Homo sapiens: one gene and its partners. The protein of the gene in region 3 purifies or fractionates together with the protein of the main gene of each other region. This does not show direct contact. Each region holds a gene or a part of one and is shown on either strand. Other genes may lie near its edges.

What was found. The genes of interacting proteins can lie anywhere in the genome.
Region 1: the proteins of POMK (region 3) and CYB5D2 purify together in Homo sapiens (affinity purification with mass spectrometry; 4 studies listed by BioGRID and IntAct, with this or other methods). This does not show direct contact.
Region 2: the proteins of POMK (region 3) and LRP5 purify together in Homo sapiens (affinity purification with mass spectrometry; 4 studies listed by BioGRID and IntAct, with this or other methods). This does not show direct contact.
Region 4: the proteins of POMK (region 3) and PKDCC purify together in Homo sapiens (affinity purification with mass spectrometry; 4 studies listed by BioGRID and IntAct, with this or other methods). This does not show direct contact.

Annotation. Positions count from the first base shown.
Region 1 is NC_000017.11:4,155,697-4,158,197, reverse strand, and holds the end of CYB5D2 (neuferricin isoform 1 precursor), read right to left. Parts: intron 2,252-2,501; exon of another isoform or gene 2,005-2,251; intron 1,333-2,004; coding exon 1,116-1,332; 3' UTR 501-1,115; downstream 1-500. UniProt on the Homo sapiens protein: Heme-binding protein which promotes neuronal but not astrocyte differentiation.
Region 2 is NC_000011.10:68,420,591-68,424,090, reverse strand, and holds part of LRP5 (low-density lipoprotein receptor-related protein 5 isoform 1 precursor), read right to left. Parts: intron 603-3,500; coding exon 394-602; intron 1-393. UniProt on the Homo sapiens protein: Acts as a coreceptor with members of the frizzled family of seven-transmembrane spanning receptors to transduce signal by Wnt proteins.
Region 3 is NC_000008.11:43,100,015-43,103,514, reverse strand, and holds part of POMK (protein O-mannose kinase), read right to left. Parts: intron 1,011-3,500; 5' UTR 915-1,010; intron 1-914. UniProt on the Homo sapiens protein: Protein O-mannose kinase that specifically mediates phosphorylation at the 6-position of an O-mannose of the trisaccharide (N-acetylgalactosamine (GalNAc)-beta-1,3-N-acetylglucosamine (GlcNAc)-beta-1,4-mannose) to generate phosphorylated O-mannosyl trisaccharide (N-acetylgalactosamine-beta-1,3-N-acetylglucosamine-beta-1,4-(phosphate-6-)mannose).
Region 4 is NC_000002.12:42,046,836-42,050,820, forward strand, and holds the start of PKDCC (extracellular tyrosine-protein kinase PKDCC precursor), read left to right. Parts: upstream 1-1,185; 5' UTR 1,186-1,364; coding exon 1,365-2,003; intron 2,004-3,985. UniProt on the Homo sapiens protein: Secreted tyrosine-protein kinase that mediates phosphorylation of extracellular proteins and endogenous proteins in the secretory pathway, which is essential for patterning at organogenesis stages.

The DNA of each region.
Region 1 (2,501 bases), on a different chromosome or scaffold from region 3:
GAGCCCAAGTGTAAGGAACAGCTGTGGCCATAGGGGCAATAAGCCCGGGTCTGCCAGTGAGGGGACAGGGGCAGTGAGCACGGGTCTGCCAGTGAGGGGACAGGGGCAGTGAGCACGGGTCTGCCAGTGAAGGGGACAGGGGCAGTGAGTACGGGTCTGCCAGTGAAGGGGAGGCAGCCTCCATTTTCTAGTCTGTGAATCTGGAAAGCGATTTAGTGAAATGAATGATGGAGAAAAAGGAGACAGTGACAGAGAGGGAGGAAGCTGGTGGATGTTGAGGGTGAGACTGAGCGGCAAAGGGAGCTGGGTGGAAGCTCTGATGAGGCGATGCACAGAGGCCGTGGCGCTGTCTGTGGTAGTGCTGGTCCCACTTCTCTGTCTGAAGTAGGAACACTCCTTGCCCCCATCTACCTTCACAAGTAGTCAAGAGGTAACAGGTATGACATTGCCAGATGACGCTGGACATACAAACCACTGGACAAGCAGCAAGCCCAGCCACCTTAAGTTTGAAGCCTTGCCCAAGCTTTAATGTCATGCTAACCAGTTACCTTGTTAGAGCTGGGAAGCCACCTTTTGCTCAAAATGCAGACTTCTGCCTTTGAAAACACACCACACCTGATTTTAAGTGCTTAAAGGACAGAAAATGTCGTTGCTTTAAATTGTTGCTTTGTTCAGAGACATCTGGATTTGCTGTATCCATACAAGCAAAAGCTTTTCCAATTCCAGAATCAACCCACACTAATTTGTTATTGCCTCGTACTGTATTGGCCCAGCTGTAATCAACTCAGCAGGCTTTTGGTTGTAAATTCAAGTGGAAATTGAGTTGGTCTTATTTGTGCCCGTTGATATCTGAGGGCTGTGAGGAAGATGGCCAGTAGGTCAAAGGGAATAGTGTTGAAAAGCTGACCAGTACTGGGCAGGTGGCCGGCTGTCCCTCAGGCACCACAACGCCGAGCCACGGTAAGGGGCATGAGCCACATTTGCAGAATATAGCCAGAGTCCTTCCAGACCCTCCTGATTCGCGCCAGGAGGCATCCCAGGGCACACAAGTGTCAAGGGCCTACTCAGGTGCTTGGCAGAGCTCTCTGTGTGTTATTAACAGAAGAGGCTACGGCTTAGAGTGGAAAGGAGCATGTGATGGCTAGCGGTGGGCAGCCTGTGTACTCTGCCAAGTTTGGGTGGTCCAGGTCCCCACGATTTCTGTGTGGAGGGTTGTCCGGCATCTGGCCACTAGGGGGGCCGGTGGTTCTCACACACACGCAGCGGGGCTCCTTAGCACCTGGCTTATACAGCTTCCTGGGGACGCCAATCCAGTCTCTGCTCACACCTCCACTAAGGATAGACGGAAAGAGGACTTCTTAAATGTGAGAACTCATGAGTCTCTGGGAAGGGGAGAGCAGGAAGCAGAGAGCCAGGCCTTCTGAAAAGTAGAAGCCTACCAGAGTGTTTCCCAAGGCAGCAGGCTACAGCGCTCAGCCCCTGAGCCTTCATGCTCTCTCCTAACATCCTCCAGCTTCCCCTGCAGGGCCACCACCACCTTCCCCAGGCCAAGGGCACAGTCCATGGTTCCTTTCACTGTGCTCCCCAGCCCCTGCCCTGCCCCTTCTTAGGAGGCAGCACCACGTTCCTGCACTGGTGGCAACAGCTGTGAAAGGGCTTCCCCTGCTGGCCTGTGAGCTTCTCAGAAGCAGTGTCTGGGTGCGACTGTCCTCTTCCTTCCCCACTACAACCCAGCGCAGGTCAGGGTCTTCACCTTCTTCTCTGGGGCACTTGGCTGGGGGTGGGCAATTGGGCCCTGGCCCTTGGCCACCTGGGTCGGCCTTCTCTGGGAAGCCCTTGGCATAGAGTGTAGCTGCAAGCTGTCCTGTGCCCCACAGGTCCAGTCCTTGATGGCACTAGGCTTCAGACACGGAGGATTCAGCTGTGGCCCAACAACCTGAGCACCCTCCTATCTTGGGCAGGGGCCTTGCCCACCTCAGGGCACTGGGCTCAGTCTCTGATGGACTCAGAGGCCTTGCAAGAAAGAAACTGAGGTTCTTGGAACTGACGCCTCAGACAGCTTCCGGTGCCTGCTGTCAGAGAAACTGCCCCCAGCGAGAAAACATCCTACTTCTAGCTTACCAAGAACAAGGCTGTCACCCAAACGCCTCCCTCTTCTACCCAGCCTCCATCCCATCATTGGGGATCTGTACTCCACACCTTGTCCCTGCCTTCGGCACTTGTTCCTCTCAGTCTAATGGGACACACACAGGTGAACAGAAGACAACAAACTGAGCTGAGGCACAGGGATAGGGCCCCGCAGTTCACTAGGGTGGCCCTGGAAGGGTTTTGTGGGGAAGGCAGAGCCTGAACTACTCAGTCATGAAAGCAAGAAGAGGTTCAGGAGACACAGGGGAAGGCTGTGGGGAGGGAAAAGGAGGCAGGGCCCAAGGAAGCAAAGTCAAGCATCTGAACGCACGCAGGCCTCCTGGAGTCTCCTCCTCCTGGAGTCTCAGAGACCA
Region 2 (3,500 bases), on a different chromosome or scaffold from region 3:
GCGTCGGGGGCCTCTGGGAGGAAGAAGCCCAGGAGCTCCCTGTGGTGGAACAGGAGCGAGTCAACAGGCAGCCCCCATGCCGTGGAAGGGATTTCTGCACAGGGTTCAAGTTTAACAAGGATGATACAAAACCTATCAACTGCAACTCCCGTCGGCCAGCGCTGCCTTGTAACCTCTCAGCAGAGCTCCCCCTTCCCTTCCAGCCCTTGGGGCTTTCTGCTTTCCTGGAGGGGCTGTGAAAGAGCCTGTGTTTGCTTTTGGGACCCTGGAAAGCCACCCATTGGATCCCCAGGGTGGAAAGTCTCCCCAGCCTGTGAGAGGCTGGCATTCGGCAGAAGACACGGCGGGCACGCCTGGACGGGCAGCACCCCCACCCACCCGTTGGCCTCCTACCCTCGCTCCGCGTTGACGACGATGGCCCTGGGCTTGTCGCGGTCCCCACGCAGCACCACCCCCATGGCTTCCCCGCTCAGCCTGTGGACGTTGATGGTATTGGTGGCCTCGCACGTCCAGAACAGTGTCCGGCTGTAGATGTCGATGCTGAGGTCGTGGGGCTGCCTGTCTGGGTTTTGGCCTTGGCTCAGAGAGGTCAAAACAAAGGGCTGTAAGACAAAGAAACCAAGACTCCTGAGCACTGGCGGAGACCCCTGGGCACTGGCGGAGACCCCTGGCACTGGCGGAGACCCCCGGGCACTGGTGGAGACCCCCGGGCACTGGCTGGAGAGCCCTGGGCACTGGCTGGAGAGCTCTGGCAGGACAGCAGAGGCCACACTTCTCAAGTTTAGCCTGAAAGTCAAATCCCAGTATTGGTGTGGGGGTCTCTCCTCTCCAATCAGCTCCTAACTACGTGCCCGCCTGAGTATGCCAGAGCGATTAGGACAACAGCCTCTGGAAGAGCTCTTGCCGCCTCGGACTTTAGGCCTCCTCAGCCACCCGCCGGGCACCCAGCTGTGCATCACTAGACTGGCGCTCCCATGAAGGCCCCATTGACAGTCGAGAAGGGATCCAAGACCATGGGGCCCTTCCCAACACATCCCTGTCTCCTCCACCTTCCAGGACTCAAGCTTTTGGACTGCGGCCCTCACGTACTGTTTTCTCTGCAGGGCACCAGGACAGACAGTTTGGGGGCCGCCCCTTACAACCCCTTCCCCAACGGAAGGAGGCCAGGTGAGGGGAGGGCAGGTGAGGGTGGGGGTTAGGTGAAGGTGGGGGACAGGTGAGGGTGCAGGGGCGGGTGAGTGGGGGAGGTGAAGGTACAGGGGAGGTGAGGGTGGGTAGGGAAGGTGCGGGTAAAGGGATCGGTACAGATGTGGGGGTAGGTGAGGCTGGGGGCCAGGTGAGGGTGGGTAGGGGCAGGTGAGTGTGGGGAATGACTCAGAGCCCCTCTTGGGAAGGCAGGGCAGCCACGTCTCTCAGTGACTCTCAAGGACTCTCCGTCTCCACACTCTCTGGGGTCACCGTCCAGGAGATGCTCGAGCGCTGCCTAAGCCCAGCCCACCCTGTGCATCTCAGGGATGAGCCTGGGCTTTTGGGGCCTCCGACACAGCATCCCTTCGAAGGGCTCTTACTGAGCTGACGTAGGAGGAGAGGACAGCCCAGAAGCCTACTGCCTGCGGGGATCTGGTTCCTTTGGGTTACCCTGAAAGACAGCTGCATCCAAGTTCCCGAGTGATTTGGCCTGGGGCAAATGGGGCCTGGAGCACCTGGGCTCCTGCCACCCAGGCCTGAAGGAAAAGCTCCCCTCCCTCTCCATTGAGTCAGAGGGAATCATCTTAGGATGGTGCTCTGATAGTAAGTCTTTTCAGACTTTCTTTATCTAGGTCTTTCAGCAGTTAATAAAACAGGGAGACAGCAGTGGCTCACACCTGTGATCCCAGAATGTCGGGAAACTGAGGTGGGAGAATCACTTGAGTTCAGGAGTTTGAGACTAGTCTGGGCAACATAGCAAGACTCCATCTGTATCAAAAAAAATTAAACCAACCAAACAAAAAAAACAATAGCTCAGTATGGTGACGCACGCCTACAGTCCCAGCTATTCAGAAGGCTGAGGTGGGAGGATCGCTTCAGCCTGGGAGGCCGAGGCTGCAGTGAGCTATGCTCATATCACCATACCCCAGCCTGGGTGACAGAGTGAGACCCTGTCTCAAAAAAATACAAATAAAACAAAGTCTCTAAGTAGATAAAAAGAAGCGTCTTCCCCAGGCCCAGTCTCTTGGACCCAGATGGAAAGGGTGCCTCCCCCATACACACACACACACCACACACCACACACACGCGCACACACACACACACACCCCACACACACACACCCCCAGATGGAAAGGGTGCCTCCCTCCCCCATACACACACACACACCACACACACACCACACACACACACACACACACACACACACACACACACAGCCTTGCTGGGCAGCTGCAAAGACATCATCACTTTCATCTGGACACGAAGGATCATGTGTCTTTGTAGATAACAACATCCACATCACTACAGAGCTGTGGACCCTAGGGGGCCATGTGTCAAAGCCAACTGAACAAATTCCTTCCTAAAAGCCACTAGCTGTGGACCCTGGACTGGTACAGCTGCCGGGCTGAAAGACAAGCAAGATTCCAGCTACCCTGGCCAAAATCAGGCTCACCGTGGAGGGTGGGTCTGTGGGAACCAGATGCAAAAACAGACTTTGGGACAGCAGTCTGGAGAACCACCATCTGAGAAACGTGTACTGTGTGACGTGACACCCTGGCCACACTCCTCCCGGGCACAAAAACAACACAGCAAACTTTACGCGGCTGGCCAGTTTCATAAACCCTGAACTCTTTTTTTTTTTGAGACGGAGTCTTGCGTGAGACAGAGTTTTGCGTGAGACGGAGTCTTGCTCTGTTGCCCAGGCTCGAGTGCAGTGAAGCGATCTCGGCTCACCGCAAGCTCCGCCTCCCGGGTTCACGCCATTCTCCTGCCTCAGCCTCCCAAGTAGCTGGGACTACAGGTGCCCGCCACCACACCTGGCTAGTTTTTTGGTATTTTTAGTAGAGACGGGGTTTCACCATGTTGGCCAGGATGGTCTTGATCTCCTGACCTCATGATCCGCCCGCCCTGGCCTCCCAAAGTGCTGGGATTACAGGCGTGAGCCACCGCGCCCGGCCCCTGAGCTTTCATTTTAATGTAGTACAAATACTTATGGTTAGTGCAAACTTTCTTACCAGAATCCTATGCAACACCACAAACACGCCTTTTCCTCACTAGTACAAAACCTTCACCACGGAAGGAAATGTTCATAGTGGCCTTATTCACGACAACCAAAGGTGGAAGAAACCTAGCACCCGTGGATGGATAAATAACAAGAAGTGGTCCGTCCATCCATCCGATGATTTTTTTTTTTTTTGAGACAGGAAGTCTCACTCTGTTACCCAGGCTGGACTGCAGAGGCACAATCTTGGTTCACTGCAACCTCTGCCTCCCGGGTACAAGCGATTCTCCTGCCTCAGCCTCCTGAGTAA
Region 3 (3,500 bases):
TGAAACAAGAAGTCATGACAGTCAGCTTTCACTTCCTTTCATTTCCAAAAATGTGTTCTGATGCCTCTTCTACTCAAGGGTCCTGTAAGCTGCAGCGTTACCGTGGGGATTAAAGCAGGTATCGAACACCAGGCTTATCCCAAATGCCCAATGTTAGCTGTTTCCATAATCATTACTTTTTATTACAAACTAAAATGCGGGTTCCTCTAGATTAGGTTAGGTGGGAGGTGTTTGTGTCTGACTCTGTCCGACTCACAGTAGCATGCATTAAATAGATGCTCATGAATATTCAGTAAAATGAAAGCAAAATGTATTAGTCAACTGGTGGGACAGGGACAGAGGGTGGACAAAGGACAGCAGAAGGAGGCTGCTTAGGGTAGCAGGTGGAGGCTGGGAAGCTGAGGGCCTCTGTCGAACTCAGCTAAGCAGCTGTCCTGTTCCCTGGGAGGTACTCAGAATCCCCTCAACAGTTTTAAGAAATAAAAGCTACTCTTCAGCAGTTATGAAAGGTAGATTTGGGGTGAAAGAGACTGAGGCTGGGAGACCAGTTATTAAGAAGCCCTGGTTATGACCACGGACAGGAGCTGACAAGTACATGAGCTAGAATAACAGCGATGAGATTGGAGAGATGACCACTCAGATGTCACACCAGCGATAAGTAACCACTGATAATGTGTGGGCTCTACCGCTGGAGCCGTGCAAGGCCATGGTGGAGGGGCCTGGCTGCGGAGAAGCCTGAAGTAGGACCGTGGATGGCAGAGGTGATTTACAGAAGCAGAATGGAGCAGAATGGAAGTATATGGAGACTTTAACAGTGGATGTGGCCATGCCAGTGGGAGCCAGCTAAACAGCACTGGAATGCTGGGGCACTGGGACAGAACTGGGTCAGAGACAGCTGTGACATGCAGGGTTACCTCCCAAGCGCATCTCCTTCTCCAGCTCAGGTCTCCATCCAGGTACCTGGTCAGTCCATACTCTAGTTGGCGCCCAGGGACTGGTCGGGAAACACCCTGCCACAAAGTACCAAACAGGAAGTGTGTAAACAGAAACTGCAGCTATGTACCCAGACAAATCGCCATAGTCCAAACGGTCCAACTTTCCCAGGGCCCTCCTCCTGCCTCAAGTCCAGGTTTCCTCAGGTTCTCAAGCCCCAGGACAGAGCAGGGCCGTGGGGAAGCCCATCAGAGTCTCTCTGTCCCAGTCTGCTCTCTTCTTCTCCATCACTGACTTCCAGCTGCTCATTCCCGCAACATGTCCTGAGCAGCTTCTATGTGCCCAGCCCTGCAGTGGGTGCTGGAGACATTCACACACAGTGAATTACACCAGCATGGTTCCTATCCTGCTGGAGCTTAGGGGAAAAGTCTAGTGGGGAAGACAGACAATAAACAAGTAAACAAATAGGTCTATCATCATCCTGTGATGGGGGTTCAAAGATAGAGAGTAACTGTGTAGGAACTCCCTGGAGGAAGCATCCCAGGAGACCTCTCTAAGGAGGTGACCTTCACACTGTGACTAGAGGCCTGAGAGGAGCCAGCCATGAAAAATCCAGGACAGGAAGCTTGTTCCTACCTCCTCCTTGAGAAAACAAAATCCACTCCCATATACAGAGCTGGGACAAGACGTCAATGAAACCACAAAGTTAACAGGAAACGGCATTTCTCCTTAGAACACACTGCAGCCATAAAGTGTCAAAAACCCCCTTTGGATGAAGACTCCTTTTTTACTACCTAGAAATTCTGTTCTCTACAATCACAGACTACCAGAAATTTTGCAGTTTGAAGTCTTATCAGTTGGGATAAAACATCCCATGCTTTCCTGGAGGATCAAAGTCACTCTGACACACAGAAGCAACCTCAGTTCCCAAACAGGGCAGACCTTCAGATAAGGAGTTTCTGGAGATAATCCTGCACATCTATGTTAACCTGGTAGTCTCCAAGGAAAGAGGACCACTTTGCAGTCCAGACTAGATCTTGGCCCCTTTACACTCAGTTCTACATGGCTTTGAGCCCATCAAAACACTACTTCATTTAAATTTGCCTAAACTTTACTCATCTCCAAAATTCTATGATTTTCTTCCTTTTTTTTTTTTTTTTTTTTGACATAGGGTCTGACTCTGTCACTCGGGCTGGAGTGCAGTGGTGCAATCATAGCTCAATGCAGCCTCAAACTCAAGCAATCCTGTCACCTCTGCCTCCTTAGTAGCTGGGACTACAGGTGCGCATCACCACATCCAGCTAATTTTTGTATTTTTTTTTGTAGAGACTGGGTCTCACGATGTTGCTCAGGCTGGCCTTGAACTCCTGGCCTCAAGCAATCCTCCTGCGTCAGCCTCCCAAATTGCTGGGATTACAGGCATGAGCCACTGCACCTGGCCTTTTAAATTTATTTTTATCCCCTCCACGGCTCTACTCATCCCCTGCATCAGTATTCCCTGGAACCTCAACACATTCCAGTACCCCACAGATGCAAGCACACAAGCTCATACTGTTCTGGCGCTCTTGAGCGTACTCCAGACCTCACACTGCTGACTCTCCCAGCAATGGCACACACTTCAGTGCCTCTATGGCTCTAAACCCACAGTAGCAGCCTCTAGAACGCCTTAAACCATCCGGCTGCCCCTTCCTAGAGTGTCCTCGTGCTCAGGGACACACGTGCACCTCACACCAACTTGACCCTTAGCGCACCGGGCCTCTGACGGTACCAAGACCCTTCCCGCACCACCACCACCCCCTACCTCACAGAGATCCACAATCCTCATCCCCGCTAGCACAGGCTCAGGTCTCCCACCGTCCTCCCTCCATCAGATCCCTCCATGAGGTCCCTCCAGCTCTGTTCCATTAGCATGCACTGGGCTCCAACTACCCAGACCTTTATTAGCGCATGCACACACCCACCACGGCACAACCCCCACAAGCGCACACCCAGCACTTGAGTCCTTCAACCACCTCCCCTCCATAAGCACCCCATTCTCTCCTACCCTGCAGGCCCCCACAGACACACACACAGCACTAACACCATACACACCCCCATCACCACACACGAGGCCTCAGAGGCCTATTAGCACACACCCTGGTGCCTCTACCACACTATCCCCCATTAGCACACACACTGGGCCTCTCTCCAGCCATAACCCCTATTAGCTTGCTTTGGAACTTCCTCAACACCCTACCCCTGTGATACACCCACGGGTCCCTCACCCGCTCTGCTGCCCACTTCCCTAAGCACACACTGGGCCTTGAGCCTCACCTGCCATAAGGCTCATCACCACATGCTCTGAGCCCTGCTCAGCCCAGGCCCCCATTGGCAAAGCTCCAGTCTCTCCCGGCTCCACCACCCATTCCCATATCCTCTGTTCCTCTGACCCCCTGCTCCCTATTTGCACTCATGGCACTTCCATCCCCAGCTCCCTGCCCCGGGCCAGGTCAGAGAGGCCCCGAAGGACTCCTGCCCTGTGCCCTCTCAGATGACTCTCTGTCCCTCTGATGAAGATATGCAAGTCC
Region 4 (3,985 bases), on a different chromosome or scaffold from region 3:
GTGGGCAGTTTCAGAGTGGCGGGGAAGAGGAGAGCTGCGAGGGGGAGGGGCAGCGGCTTATCTCTCCCAGGAGGGGGGAGCTCACTCCAAACAGCTAGTGCACTGGCGTGTGAAAGCCCCTCAATTAGCACTAATGATGCAATCAGGGAGGGAGGAGGAGGGACCGAAGTTCTGGTGGCGTCAGCACCAACTTACACACAAGGTACACATTCCCTTCATCGGACACAATGGCCCCTTCAGACACGCCGAGGCACACACTCCACAGACAGCCGTCCGTGGGCACAAACGCACTCTTTGCCCAAGCTACTAGCATGCACATGGTTTCTTATACGCGGCTGACCCCGTCAGACCCCAGGCATCTTGAGGGGTAGGGAGCGACCCCCAGCTGCATTTGGGGCTTTAGAGGCAAGGAAAATCAGAAACACTTTGGTAAAAGGAGTTGAACAGGGCATCCTCGGCGAGCTCACGAGCATTCCTCTATGCCTAGAGCTCCTGTCCCACGCGCGCTCGCAGGTGCTGGCCCGGCTGTGCCCGCTTCCCCCTCACCATCGCCCCAATCCGGAATCCGGGGCTGAGCGAGGAGCCGCCACCCCCGGCCCCACCCGCGAGAGACGGGGTCCACGCGCCTTCCCTGCGCCCAAACCGCCCCGAGGCCCCCAGTCCCAGGAGGGAGCGCTGAGATCACTCGGATCTCCGCACCCCGGACTTAGCTGCTCGTCCCCTCCGGAGCCCGCTACCCGCCGGCCTCGCCCCTTTATCTTTCCCCCACTCCGCCCGGCCGGCTCCGTTATCCACCTCCCAATCCCGTTATCCGGCCGCCCCGGCCCCGTTATCCGCCCTCGCGTTGGGCGCGGAGCCCCCGCGCGCCTCCTGGCCGCCGCCGCCCCCTCCCCCGCTCCCAGACGGAGCTCGGGGGACCGCGGGCTGGGCGGGACCGCGGGCTGGGCAGGACCGGAGCCGCCTCCGCGCCGCTTCCCAGGCCCGGACGGCCGCGGGAGGAGGTCCCGCTGTCAGTCAGCGGGGAAGGCCGGGCCGGGCGGCCGGAGGGGGCGGCGCCGAGGACGGGCTCGGGCCGGGAGCTGGGAGGTGGAGGCGGAGGGGCGGGGGAGGGGGCGGGGGAGGGGGCGGGGGCGGGGGCGGGGGGCGGCTCTGGGCCTTATAAGCGGCGGGGGCAGGGCGGCAGGGAGGCAAGTGTCAGGCCGATGTGTCGCCCGCGAGGGGCCGGGGTCGGGGCCGCCGGGGCCATGCGCGCGGGCTGGGCAGGGGGCCGGCGGGGCGCAGAGCGGAGCCGCCTCGGAGCCTGAGCCGCCCGGGGCCGGGGCCGGGGAGCCGCGCGGGGCCGGCCGGCCGGGGGGAGGGGAGCGATGCGGCGCCGGCGGGCGGCAGTGGCCGCGGGTTTCTGCGCCTCCTTCCTGCTGGGCTCCGTCCTCAACGTGCTCTTCGCTCCGGGCTCGGAGCCTCCGAGGCCAGGCCAGTCCCCTGAGCCTTCGCCGGCCCCGGGTCCGGGCCGTCGCGGGGGCCGCGGGGAGCTGGCCCGGCAGATCCGGGCGCGCTACGAGGAGGTGCAGCGCTATTCCCGCGGGGGCCCCGGGCCCGGGGCGGGCCGGCCGGAGCGGCGGCGCCTGATGGACCTGGCTCCGGGCGGGCCCGGCCTGCCGCGCCCCCGGCCCCCTTGGGCCCGGCCCCTGTCCGACGGCGCCCCAGGCTGGCCCCCGGCTCCCGGCCCAGGCTCCCCCGGCCCGGGCCCGCGCCTGGGCTGCGCCGCGCTTCGCAACGTGTCCGGCGCGCAGTACATGGGCTCAGGCTACACCAAGGCCGTGTACCGGGTCCGCCTGCCCGGCGGTGCCGCGGTGGCGCTCAAGGCGGTGGACTTTAGCGGCCACGATCTGGGCAGCTGCGTGCGCGAGTTCGGGGTACGGAGGGGCTGCTATCGGCTGGCGGCCCACAAGCTGCTTAAGGAGATGGTGCTGCTGGAGCGGCTGCGGCACCCCAACGTGCTGCAGGTACGAGGGTGGGGACGCGGGGGTAACGGTGTTGGCTGGGAGTGCCCAAGACCTTGTCAACCTGGCTGGAAGAGAACCCCTTGATCTGGAGTGCCAGTGACTGCACCCAGGCTAAGCTAGACGCAGAAACCGGACCATGGCCCTTCCCACTGCACCACCCTGCTTCTCACTCCTGGGTGGGCGTCCCTTTACCGGAGAACTCCTGGGTTTCTCGGCTTCCACACATCTCTTAAAGACAGGCCAGGACAGAGGCTCCCAAAACTCAGGGGGTGGGGCAGTCCATTAGGATTTAGGACTCTACTCCGGGCTGGAGTTAGGAGGTTGAACACCAGGGATATTACCCCAAGCCAAAATGACCCTAAGCCAAGACACTTGAGTCAGAATTCCAACTGTGTGATAAAGTCCCCCTTCTTGATGGAACTTCTCCCAACTTCCAGTGATTTGTCTGGTTTTGAAAATGAGACGGGACAGCAGTGGGGCTGGGAAGAGCTGGAAAGAGACCATGTGTCAGGCTTGATTCCTATAGAGTCTCCCCACCCACCCACCTCCAGCGCCACCCAGAAGACACTGGAAGGGGGCTGGGGAGCAGGCTAGAAAAAGGGAACACAGTCCTTCCCAGAAGTGAACTAAGGGTTCCCCAGGCCTTAAAGTGGGTCCTTGAGCCCCTGGAGAAGCCTGAAGGTCTCAGCTCAGTGGACAGACTGGCGGCCTGAGGATCTAAATGTCACACTGTCTGAGTGTATATAGATAGCCAAGAGGCTGGAAGGTTGAGAAGGCCAAATGCTCAGGTTCCTACTCAACGGGACTCTGCCTCGCCTGTTCACTGGAGACACAGGCGAGAGCTGAAACCCCCACCTTGTCCCCTCCAAGCTAGACTTTGAGTGGGCCTCTCACAGTCCCAGCACCGCCCTAACACTCCACGTCCTCTCTCTCAGGTCTCCCCCCATCCTAAGATTAGACAGACTATTCCCTTTGCACATGTCTGAGCAAACAGAGGGGAATCCCTGACCGCTGTTGGCCCGGTGAACATGGGTGTGTGCAGCCTCCCCAACGGATGAAATCTTGCACACACCTTCCACCTACCAGCCCACTCAAACTAACCTTTCTGCACCCAGCAGAAATGACTGGAAACCCAGGAGTCCCTCTCTCCTTTCCTTAGGAGTGAGATGGCACCCCAGCCCTGGAGGGAGATGGGTGGGCGTCGTAGAGCAGGAGAGACTGGCCCAAAAGTTGTTTATACTCCTGTTGGCTCCCAGTCTCCCCCTCCCCCATCGTATTCCCCAACCCTGGTCAGACACTTGTGACCGGGCCCTGGGCCCCAAACTGGTCTCAGGAGCTCGGGCAGAACCAACACTTGCGTGTAGTGAAGCCTGGCTGCACAGCTCACACCGTGTCTGCAGCTTCAGGGAGTGAGCCCCTGGTTACGTGGCCATTCTAACTGGGAGGATCTTGTACTCTTTCCTTCCCAGGGACTTTTGGGAACTTTTTGGAAACTCTAGGGTGTCAGCCAGATCCTGAGGGAGTGGAGAGGTCTTGAGTGACTTAGCAGGACATAAAGTCTTAGTTACTTGACTCAAGACCCCTCTCCCTTCAGACGGGTTTGATGTTTGATGTGCTTTCCTATCTTTTAAGAAACTTGTCCCTCACTCTTCCCGCCAGCTCAAACTTCCTGACAAGCATTCAGCTAACGCCCCACATATATATCACGTGACGGTCCTCCTCTGAAATGTCAGGCCCCCAGCCCAATTCTGAAGGCACCAAAGAAAAAATTACAACAGAATAGTTTTCACCCTTCCCTCACCAAACCAAGACCAGGGTTGTCTGGGGTTAGCTGTGTGACTCTTTATTGTAGAGTCCCAGACGAGAGTTAGTGGCCCCAGGGCACAAGGGTTGCTAAGGGAGAGAGGGTCACAGGTCCTTTCTACCCAGGAAAAGTGAAAAGTGGGGGGCCCTTTAGTGTGAGTTTAGGGACTGCTTTGATG